4 separate regions of the Homo sapiens genome follow, and regions 1, 2 and 3 are each linked to region 4. Evidence: fine-mapped expression QTL. A gene starts in region 4. Each other region holds a variant in brackets. All regions are shown on one strand. Distances are between the middles of the regions. Region 1 overlaps LRRFIP1 (LRR binding FLII interacting protein 1). Region 2 overlaps LRRFIP1 (LRR binding FLII interacting protein 1). Region 3 overlaps LRRFIP1 (LRR binding FLII interacting protein 1). Region 4 holds the start of RBM44 (RNA binding motif protein 44).

Region 1 (2,686 bases), 20 kb after region 4:
AAAGCTTCATTTGTTGCCTGTAAAGAGTCTTCTTAAGGTCACTTTTACTTCTAGACTGCCCCCTTGTTTCCAGTGAAAGAGTTTTGCTTGGTAATGGCTTGTGGTTCCACAGTGTTTTGTGTATGAAAAGCGTAGACTAAGAGATACTACTGAAGTCGCTCAAATTGTAGATTCTGCCATGAAAGGAAGTCCCAACACTGTAACATTTCCCCTTAATCTTCAGCAAGACACATGAAAAAAAAAAAAAACTCAAGTCCCAACTGAATCTTTACTTTGATCATCACTTCCAGCGGCATTCAGAGGCTGCTGTGCGGTCAGACACAGAGCTCCCTCGAGGCCCCTGTGTGCTTATGAAGTACCTGCAGGTTCTGAGCGTCGGCGCCAGCCCGGGCCAGGGGTCTGCAGACAGAGGCACCTGGTGGCTGCTGGGGCTCCCTGGGGTGAGCCATGGCACGGGAGCCCCTAAGCGCCAAGCTCGCCACGGTCTTCGTCTCTCGGAAGGCAGGGGAAGAAGCAGCGCTCCCAGATAGGACAGAGAAAAGCCTATGAAACAATGCTCTCCAGTCACCAACCAGTTGCCTGATCAGAGCTGGAATTTACTGCTGGGACAAGAGTGCACTCCGATTTGCTTTCATTTTTTCCAGACGCTTCACTAAGTGGCCGTTGCTCACCTCGAGCTCTTCTGTTTTATCCAATGCAGAGCGGAGCTGGGAACGGAGGAAAGGCAGTGAGCTTTAAGGAACTTGTTTCCTCCAAACATAACAGGGTTCTGTGTTACCGAAATTCCAATCCTACTGAAAAATAAAATGATAACTTGGCCCCTGGTCCCTCATGATGCCCTTCCTCCTCTGAAACAACTGGACTCCAGAGAGGGAACACCCTTGGGGATCCTGATGGTTTTCTTTTTTTTTTCTTGAGATGGAATCTCGCTCAGTCGCCCAGGCTGGAGTGCAGTGGCGTGATCTCGGCTCACTGCAAGCTCCGCCTCACGGGTTCAAGCGATTCCCCTGCCTCAGCCTCCCGGGACTACAGGTGTGCGCCACCACCCTCAGTTAATTTTTTGTATTTTAGTAGAGACGGGGTTTTGCCATGTTGGCCAGGATGGTCTCGATCTCCTGACCTCGTGATCTGTCCGCCTTGGCCTCCCAAAGTGCTGGGATTACAGGCATGAGCCACCACGCTCGGCCTCTTTTTTTGTTTGTTTTTTTTTTTGAGACAAAGTCTCGCTCTGTCACCCAGGCCAGAGTATAACGGTGTGATCTTGGCTCACTGCAACCTCCGCCTTCTGGGTTCAAACAATTCTCTTGTCTCAGCCTCCTGAGTAGCTGAGACTACAGGTGCACACCACCACACCTGGCTAATTTTTTGTATTTTATTAGAGATGGGGTTTCACCATGTTGGTCAGGCTGGTCTTGAACTCCTGACCTCAGGTGATCTACCCACCTCGGCCTCCCAAAGTGCTGGGATTACAGGCGTGAGCCACACGCCCAGTGGGGATCCTGATGGTTTCACAAAAGGTAAGTGAGGCATGAGGTAAACAAACACAAACAACAAG[A/T]GCTGAGCCTGGACTGCATGGCGAAGGTGGTCCCCACAGCCCTGGCAGCCAGAGTCCAAGGCAGGAATGCCTGAGGCCAAGACGGCCACACCTGGGAGCCAGGGCCATGGAGCCTGAGAGTCAGGCAGAAGACGAGCTGCAGAAGCCACATTAGCAGGGCATCATCTGGACCCACAGGCAGCAGGGCAGAGTGGGGTGCCCTAAGCTGGGAGAACGTGGTTTTGGAGGGGTGACAAGAACAGGGTCTATGGCTCTGCTTTCGACCCAAAACACTCAAGGAAGCTTGTTTGGGTCCTGGGACAGAAGTCCCGACCCCACCTCACTAGCAGAGGCAGAAGCAAGCCCTTTTTGCAGGAAGTTTCCACAAGTTAAGCCTGGAGTTATTCCTACAAATTAAAATCAAGCATAAGCTCACAAAACACTAAGGTGACAAACCATTTGAGTGAGAGTCAACAGAAGCAATAAATGACAGAATTAGACCCCCAAAGACTGAGCATGTTTCAGTTGTCAGATACAGAAAACCAAACAGCTGTGTATGAAATATTTAAAGAATAAGAATACAATTTAAAAAGAGGACATACATGAACATGCAGCAAGAAACTATCAACAATGAAGACACTTTTTAAAAAAAATGGTGAACTGGAAAATCTTTGCAAAAACTTTAGGCATTATCCAATAGAGAGAGGTAAGGAGATAGAAAACATGAAAGAGAGATGGTTAAAAAATGTGGAGACAATGAGAATCTCTAACATCCTCTGATTAGAGTTCCAGAGGGGAAAGTGGAGAGACTAAAAAAGAGGAATTATTTAAGGAGTTAATGGTTGAATATTTTCCAAAATCAATTTTTAAAAAGACTTCACAGATCCAAGAAACACTATATATCTCAAGCAGAAAGATTCCAATAAACTACATCTAACAGTAAAACTGTAGAAAATCAAAGACAAACAGAACCTGAAAGAAACTAGAGAAGAAAAAAAAAGGTCCCTACAAAGGACCGACCGTTAAAACAACAACTTTCTCAACAGCTCAATGGAAGCCAGCAGATGGTGGCATAATCGCTATAATCATTGAGGAAAATGACCACCACACAGAATTGCATGTCCCTGAATACTACTGTCCAAGAACAAGGAT
Region 2 (2,686 bases), 27 kb after region 4:
GGCCAATTAACTAAATTAATTTTAAAGAACAAAATTTTAAAACACTCCCAAGCCACATTAGCTATTTTCTACAACTAACTGTTGTTGATAAAGGATTAGTATCTACTGTAACAACTTAAATTCTAAGAATTCTTTCCTTCCTGCTTGCTCTGTAAGAAACGGATGGAAAGACTTGCTGTCTTAACTTATCCCTCTTAGGACATTTCTTGGTTCTAAAAATCTCGGCTTTTTCTGGTCCTCAGCCTTTCAGGGCTATTTCTAGCAAGTAAAACTCCAGTCAATCATCAGTTCTGCCCGTTGTTGCTTACACGTACATTTTGTTCTAATGCAGTTATCTCTTGCTCAGATTTTGCAAGTTTAAATTTGAGGTCGCTGATCTGTCTGTTGGCATCCCCTAAAGGTTGAAAGAGAAGGAAAATCTGTTAAGCTCTTGGGCTTTTCAAATATTAAAACAATAGTTACTGGGAACCAAGCCCTTACTTTGTAATCATCTCACAAATCTGTTAGTTCTGGCCCTGCCTCCACAACCTCCCAGAGCTGAGAGTAGGAGAAGGCACTCTCTCCCCATGAACCCAGGGAAAGTGCCTTCCGCCCCTGTGCTTGGGGCAGGAAACCTCAGGCAAGAGAGTGCCTATGAGTGAAGAAGACAAAGAGATGGTAGGGGGTAGGGAAAAGGGCGGAGAGAGACTGGGCATAATTTTATCTCCCTTAAGACTGTTTCTAGTTTATTAGCATGAAAAAAGCCTTTCATTTTTTTTTTTTCATACAATCAACAGATCGAAAGATTGCTGTATCCAGCAAAGTAAATGTGGTTTCCATCGGCACAACATGTGGTGGTATCTTGGTGCACGTTTTTGGGTACCTGTTCTATTTCATAGGCTCAGAGAGAAACACCATTGTTCTGTCTACCTACCCCTCCTTGTGCTTTTATTTTTAAGGGCTTTTGTGGGGATGTGAGGGAATGAGGGCATTCTTTGCCGTGACAGTTTTCTCTGCCAGCACAAGTATACTAAAACAGCACATGTGAAAGCATTTACTTCTACACAAGAATTGACATTTACTTTGTAGGTCCATTACATGCATGTCTGTCCCGTTTTCCAAGACATCATCTTCAGATCGAAGATTGTCTAGTTTGCCAATCTTCTGTCTCTCCTCCAGCTGCCCTTTGAGTTTCTTAATCTGAAAACACCCGCCAGTAAAATCTGTTAATTTCTCTACTCTGAATGAGACCGAAAAGCTGAAGTTAGAGCCCATCAGAAAGGAAGCAGCATGTCAAATGACAGAAGGCACTTTGTGTCCATCAGTACTCTTCTCAGAAACACAATTCAATGTACAATGAATGAAAAATGAATTACACTGTAACTCTGAGAGAAAAGTCATTTCTAAAGTGAAATTCTTCTAGGACTCAGGAGGAGACTGTACATGAAATACCTGCAATGTTTAAGACTCAGTAAGTCACC[A/G]TGCTATTCACTTTCTCTTTATTTACTAAGAAACCAGAAAGGGCCACTTGGAGCCTTCTGGGCTCCAATATATTGTAATTAAGTCCCCCAAAAGTCGAGTGCTTTCTCAGCGTCCAGGCCAGCTGCAGGTGTGTTCAGAGGCGGTTTGCCAGCTTTCAGGGAGTTGGTCTCTAGCTAGCTTTCCCCTCTCTAAGCAAGACAGAAACATGTCCAGTTGTCCCTTGGTATCTGGGCGGGGGGGGGGGGGGATTGGTTCCAGGACCCCTCAGACACCAAATCTGTGGATGCTCAAGTCCCTGATATAAAATGGTGCAGTATTTGCAGAAACCTACCTGCATTCTCCGGTACACTTTAAATCACCTCTAGATTCCTTTTAATACCCAACGCCTACAACTCACTTCATTTGTGTGGATTCAGTGCAGGACTCCGTGCAGGGCAAATTCAAGCTATGCTTTTTGGAACTTTGCGGAATTTATGGGTTTTTTTTTTTTTTTTTTGGAATATTTCAATCCATGTTGGTTGAATCCACGGATATGGAACCCATGGATATGGAGGGCTGACCGTATAGTTGGAATTGCAGTTAACAGTCAATGACTGCAGAACTTTCTGGCATCTAGTTCGTGGGGTCTCCGGGGGCTTTTCATGTTTAACTTCCAATCTGTGAAGAATTGTTGCAGGTGATCACCTGCCTTCCTACCCCACACACCAAGCACAGGAGACCCCTGATTAACAACAAACCAAAAGTGCATGCTGCTTTAAGGAAGTAAGGATAGAACTCAGGAATGCAGTTTCAAAAGATCACAGGAACTTCAAGAGAATCTTCCTACCATATTTAGTGCTTTCTCCAATTTTCGGAGAATCTTCAACAGAATGGTAGGAAGTAAGGCAAATACATTTGATTAGGCTTATGAGGAGAAATTAGAGGAAAGTGGTTGTAGAGTGATTTAATCACTATCCTGCATATAAAAAGATCAGATAGGATAACTGTTCAGTGTTTCTTTGTTTTTGAGATGGAGTCTTGCTCTGTCACCCAGGTTGGAGTGCAGTGGTGCGATCTCGGCTCACTGCAACCTCTGCTTCCCGGGTTCAAGCGATTCTCCTGCCTCAGCCTCCCCAGTAGCTGGGATTACGGGCGCGCACCATCACACCCGGCTAATTTTTGTATTTTTAGTAGAGACGGGGTTTCACCATGTTGGCAGACTGCTCTTGAACTCCTGACCTCAAGT
Region 3 (2,686 bases), 33 kb after region 4:
GAAGGAAGATTTACATTTATATACGGGAGCTATGTTCTGGTTTGGGACTGAAAAATATCCAAGCTTTTTGATTTCAGGTGTCAGTAACCAATGTTTTTCTCTATTCTGTATGATAGTGAAACCCCAGTGGTCTAGGTTCGTCTGGGGATATGGCTGGCAGGCAACCTTTCAATTCTTTTCTGAGTTTGAATCTTTTGACACTATAATCTTTCTAAATTGCTCTATATATTTCTATACCTTCTTATATGGAGTATAGCTAAGTCAACTTTCTTTTTCTTTTCTTTCTTTTTTTTTGAGACAGGGTTTCACTCCATCACCCAGGCTGGAATGCAGTGGTGTGAGCACAATTCACTGCAGCCTCGACCTCCCAGGCTCAGGTGTTTCTGCCTCCTAAGTAGCTGGGACTACATGGGACTACATGCACATGCCACCATGCCTGGCTAATTGTTTGTATATTTTTTTTGTAGAGATGGGCTTTCATCATGTTGCCCAGGCTGGGCTTGAACTCCTGGGCTTAAGTGATCTGCCTGCCTCGGCCTCCCACGTGCTGGGATTATAGGCATGAGCCAATGTGCCCGGCCTCAACCATTTCTTGATAAGTTAAGGGCCTTCACAGTAATATCAATTACTGTGCTTGGCTATAAAGTCATTACACTGGAGAGCATATAACTGATGCTCAGAATGAAGGCTCTGAAATCATCGAGAAATGGTTTGGCTGCTCAGAACTCTTTCTTTTTCCTTCTTTCTTGCTCATGGATTTTCAGCTGTCCATTCCCTACTGGAGGGCTGGGTCCAACTGCTTGTTCACTGGCACAGTGCCTTCCATGTACAAAGTGATCAAACCTGTCTATTAATTAAGCAAATGAGTGGTGAATCACTGAGACGGCTGGATGGCTGAGCTGAGGGATGTGATGTGTGCCCAACGTCCTGCAGGGTGCTGGTGAATAACATGAGAAAGAACTTAAAATGGCTTGATGATCTCACCATTTAGTGACCTTGGTTGTCACACTGCTTTCCAAGAGCCCTTTAAAGGTAGGAATGAGAGCTGTTTCCAGTATGCATTCCAATAGGAATGCAGCTTTGCTAAAGTTAGAGACATAAACTAAAACCCTGTGAAGTCCTATAGAGCCCTTGGACTTATTTCCTAGCAAGCATTTATCATCCCCACCATCCTCTACTTCAGGACACTTGAGCAGAAACAGTCAAGGTTTTTGCCGTTTTCATCCTGCTCTTCAAAACACTGTAAGTAGTGGCGCAGGTAAGCACAGCCACAGGTGAAGACCGTTTTCAGCTGAGGCTGCACATCAGAACCACAGATCAC[A/G]GGGGATGGTGCGTGACAATCGTCTCAGTTCTCCCAGTAATGCCCATGCTAGCCCCAGGCTCGATGCCAGGAGGGAAGTGCATTCCTTACTGAGGGAGGGCATCAGGCGTGGGTCTTCCACGGAACCCCAATAGGAATCAGCAACCCCCAAGCAGATATTACTCAAAGGTGGTATTACATACAACAGTAGTCAGACTCAGACTTCAAGCAGCCCAAAGAGTGGAACCACAGGCTTGCACAATTATAAAATGTTTTTATTTCAATTACATAATAACACGTTTTCCTCAAATTTTATTGAGGTTTTGGTCTTTTTGCATTCAATTCTATCTTGTAACAGTAATATGAATCCACATAATTTCATAAAATGTCAACAACATTCATAAGGTACATTCCTTTGTGATTTTATATTTTACAATTTTAAATCTAACTTTACAATTATTTTAAAAAATTTTTTTATATAGAAAACAGATATTTTCTTCAGGCAGATCAAAACAAGAATTTTCCAGTAAGAATATACTGGGACATAACAAATGAAAATATTTATACCAAAATACCAAAAGTGATTCAGCTCTTTAAAATATCCTACTATAGTCTAATTAGTAGCTTGTACAAGAACAAGTAACCATTTTTTACTGCTCTTTTGAATGATGATTAGAAATTCAAACAAAGTATTTTAAGGTTCAAAAACTTTTTTTTTTTTTTTTTTTTTTTTTAGAGACAGTGTCTCACTCTGTCTCCCAGGCTAGAGTACAGTGTGCAATCATAGCTCACTGCAGCCTTGAACTCCTGGCCTCAAGCAATCCTCCCACCTTGGCTTCCCAATGTGCTAGGTTTACAGGCGTGAAAACATTGTGTTGTGTGTGTGTGTGTTTTTTTTTTTTTTTTTAGACAGAGTTTCGCTCTTGTTGTCCAGGCTGGAGTACAATGGCTTGATCTTGGCTCACTGCAATCTCTGCCTCGCAGGTTCAAGCGATTCTCCTGCCTCAGCCTCTGGAGTGGCTGGGATTACAGGCGCCCACCATCACGCCCGGCCAATTTTTTGTATTTTTAGTAGAGACAGGGTTTCACCATGTTGGCCAGGCTGGCCTCGAACTCTTGACCTCAGGTGATCCACCTGCCTTGGCCTCCCAATGTACTGAGATTACAGGCATGAGCCACCACGCCCGGCCAAAAACATTTAAAAAATGACTGTCCCTGCTCAAATACTGCAGTAGGAAATGTAATTTGACATATATCACTTCCAGAAAAAAACTTTAAATCTTTCTATAAAATGAATTTGATACATCATCAGCATGAAGTGAAGTTAAAATCTCTTACAAAGTAAATTCAGGTATATCAACAATGAGATCCAAAAGTATCGGTTCA
Region 4 (2,686 bases):
TTTTAGTATAACGGAAGTACTTGCAGATCATGTATGCGATAGAGGTCTATTATCTAGAATATAGAAAAAACTCTTACAACTGAACAATAAAAAGGCAAACAACCCAATATTAAGAATGAGCAAATGACTTGACAAAGAGGATATACAAATGGCCAATAAACACATGAAAATATGCTCAATTTATCAAGAGTCATGAAGGAAATGCAAATCAAAACCAAAAGATATCACTTCACACCCACTAGGATGACAATAACAATAACAGTAACAACAGTGTTGAGCAGGTCATGGAGAAATCAGAACCTTCATCCATTGCCGATGGGAATGTAACATGGTGCAGCCACTCTGGAGAAGTCTGGCACTTCCTCAGAAAGTTAAACACAAGACAACCACATGATCCAGCAATTCCACTCCTAGGTACATGCCCATTTTTATTATTTTCTTTGAGTTCTCACTTACCGAACTATTTCCTCCAGTGCACGAAACTCCAGGGAATGGTATCGCCAGAAACCACAGGACTCGCCCTTGACACCTCCCTTATCCCTGAGGTCTTGTCAATTTTAACTCCTGACTCTCACAGCTATGCAGACAATCACCTCACATCTGGCCAGAATAATCTTTCTAAAATGCTTATCGAATCAGTTACGCTCCTGCTTAAAACTCAGCAACGGACTGTCACTGTTTTCAGACAGATTAAAATCTGAATAAGTCCTGTAAAACCCTACAACGGTCCGGGCTCTGTGTTAGCCTTGGCACTTGGTGTCTTCCAGATACACCCTCCTTTCCATTTCCTTAAAAAGTCAGGCCCTGGCCGGGCGCGGTGGCTCACGCCTGTAATCCCAGCACTCTGGAAGGCTGAGGCGGGATGATCACGAGGTCAGGAGATAGAGACCGAGATCGAGACCATCCCGGCTAACACGTTGAAACCCCGTCTCTACTAAAAAAATGCAAAAAGTCAGGCCCTGTGCGTTCTCTCGCCTGCCCACCCCCTACCCCACCTTGAGTTCACGCTCAACTTCAGATCTCATCTTAAATACGCGCTTCTTAGGGAAACCGTCCGGGCACCTCACACTAGGTCAGGAGCTGGCGCCGTCCTCCAGGGCGTCCTACGCGTCGGTCAGGGGCACACACGCCTGAGTACGGAACGAACTTCACGTCCCCCTCTCGCTAGAGTCCCCGCCCCGCAGCAGAGGCTCCATCAGTCTCCACGGCAAGAAGAAGCATATGTGCGAATTTCTAGCTTTCCCCGGGGACATAACCAAGTTTGGGAGACCGGCCCCGCGACTTCGTTCGAGAACGACTTTTGCGGTGTCGGCGCCCGCTATGAGGGCGCCGGAACTCCAGTGCCGCCCAAGGAACGCGCCAGTCCCCCGCCCGCCTCGCTGGCCTCGCCTACACCGCCGTTCGGAGTCCCCGCGTGCTTCAGCGGGACGGGCCTCGCCGCCGGGACCGGCCACACGCGGGGTTCGCCAACCCCGACCGCTCAAGCCCATGGCCTCGCCCTCGCCGGCTTCGCCGCCCGACCTGCCGCCCCGCGTCTCTGTCCGTCGCACCTCGGATCCGCTAGAAAGCCGCCGCCGCTGCCGCCTCCACGGGCCAGCGCCCCGCTCTCCGCAGCCGCCTCCGAGTCAGTGGCGCCACCGGAGCAGCCGCGGCGCCTGTTGGGTAACAGTCACCAGCGGCCCGCCCACCGCCTGTCGGGCAGTATGAAAAGTGCGGCACTGTGATTGGCCCAGCCTGTGGGCGCGAAAGCGCGGGAAGGAGGCCGCCTGCTTGAATGTTGCACGACGTAGAAGAGATTGTGGGCGTCTGTCTTGGAGCGCAGAGCGGCCCCCAAGACTTTCCCGCTTTGCAGCCTGAAACCCTCGTCTGGACCGCGCAGCTCTGCAAAGTCACCATATGAAAATACTTGGAAGCGCTGCTTCTGCCAGCAGAGGCCAGACTGCCCCTCGCTTGGGTCCGGTGCAGGCCGAGTCCTCCGCCCTCAGAGGCGGGACAGGGGCCCGGCCTCCTTGCCGAACTGTTTCCCAGGCCGCGTGGTCCCTCCCGGGGTTTGGCTTGTCCTCTGCCCATCTTCTAGAAATACCGTTAGCAGGGTCGGGCCGCGACTAGGGTGAGGCCAGTGAGGCATTTGTCATGAGCACAGGATTTCAGAGGCTGCCAAAATAGCAATCAAGATAAATAATATTTTAATGCAGTCTCTAAAAAAAGTCAAAAGTAATGAAAAAATTCAGTCCTATTTTTTCCTTTCGCCTCAGACTCTTAAAATGGCTCCACAGGGTACATTGTTACTGGTCCTGTCTTTATTTAAAATTTGAATATTCTGGGCTGGGCGCGGTGGCTCACGCCTGTAATCCCAGCAGTTTAGGAGGCCAAGGCAGGTGGATCACCTGAGGTCAGGAGTTCGAAACCAGCCTGGCCAACATGGCGAAACCTCGTCTCTACTAAAAACACAAAAAATAGCCGGGCAGGTGTGGTCGTGGACGCCTGTGATCCCAGCTACTCGGGAGGCTGAGGCAGGAGAGTCGCTTGGATCCAGGAGGCGGAGGTTGCAGTGAGCTGAGATCACCCTGTTGCACTCCAGCCTGGATGATGACAGAGCAAGACTCCGTCTCAAAATAAATAAATTAAATTAAATTAAATTTGAATATTTTATTATGGATTTTTTGCATTAATTTCGATTTTTTAA

What was found. PIP is the estimated chance that this variant, and not a neighbour inherited with it, causes the effect.
Region 1: its variant is fine-mapped to the expression of RBM44 in tibial artery (GTEx, PIP above 0.99). The same link has a PIP of 0.9 or more in cerebellum, ileum, lung and transverse colon.
Region 2: its variant is fine-mapped to the expression of RBM44 in whole blood (TOPMed, PIP above 0.99).
Region 3: its variant is fine-mapped to the expression of RBM44 in blood mononuclear cells (TOPMed, PIP 0.97).

The regions. Positions count from the first base shown.
Region 1 is chr2:237,777,443-237,780,128 of GRCh38, reverse strand. It overlaps LRRFIP1 (LRR binding FLII interacting protein 1), which reads right to left. Exons shown (of 24, transcript NM_001137550.2): 24 at 1-707. The coding sequence ends at 597. Among named protein-coding and RNA genes, the nearest start is that of RBM44, 20 kb to the left of the region's middle. The variant A/T (reference allele first, on the strand shown) is at 1,556.
Region 2 is chr2:237,770,574-237,773,259 of GRCh38, reverse strand. LRRFIP1 (LRR binding FLII interacting protein 1) reads right to left here. Exons shown (of 24, transcript NM_001137550.2): 21 at 1,062-1,179; 22 at 315-394. Among named protein-coding and RNA genes, the nearest start is that of RBM44, 27 kb to the left of the region's middle. The variant A/G (reference allele first, on the strand shown) is at 1,461.
Region 3 is chr2:237,764,784-237,767,469 of GRCh38, reverse strand. The region is part of intron 19 of LRRFIP1 (LRR binding FLII interacting protein 1); the gene reads right to left. Among named protein-coding and RNA genes, the nearest start is that of RBM44, 33 kb to the left of the region's middle. The variant A/G (reference allele first, on the strand shown) is at 1,322.
Region 4 is chr2:237,797,726-237,800,411 of GRCh38, reverse strand. It overlaps RBM44 (RNA binding motif protein 44), which reads right to left and starts at 1,633. Exons shown (of 16, transcript NM_001080504.3): 1 at 1,551-1,633.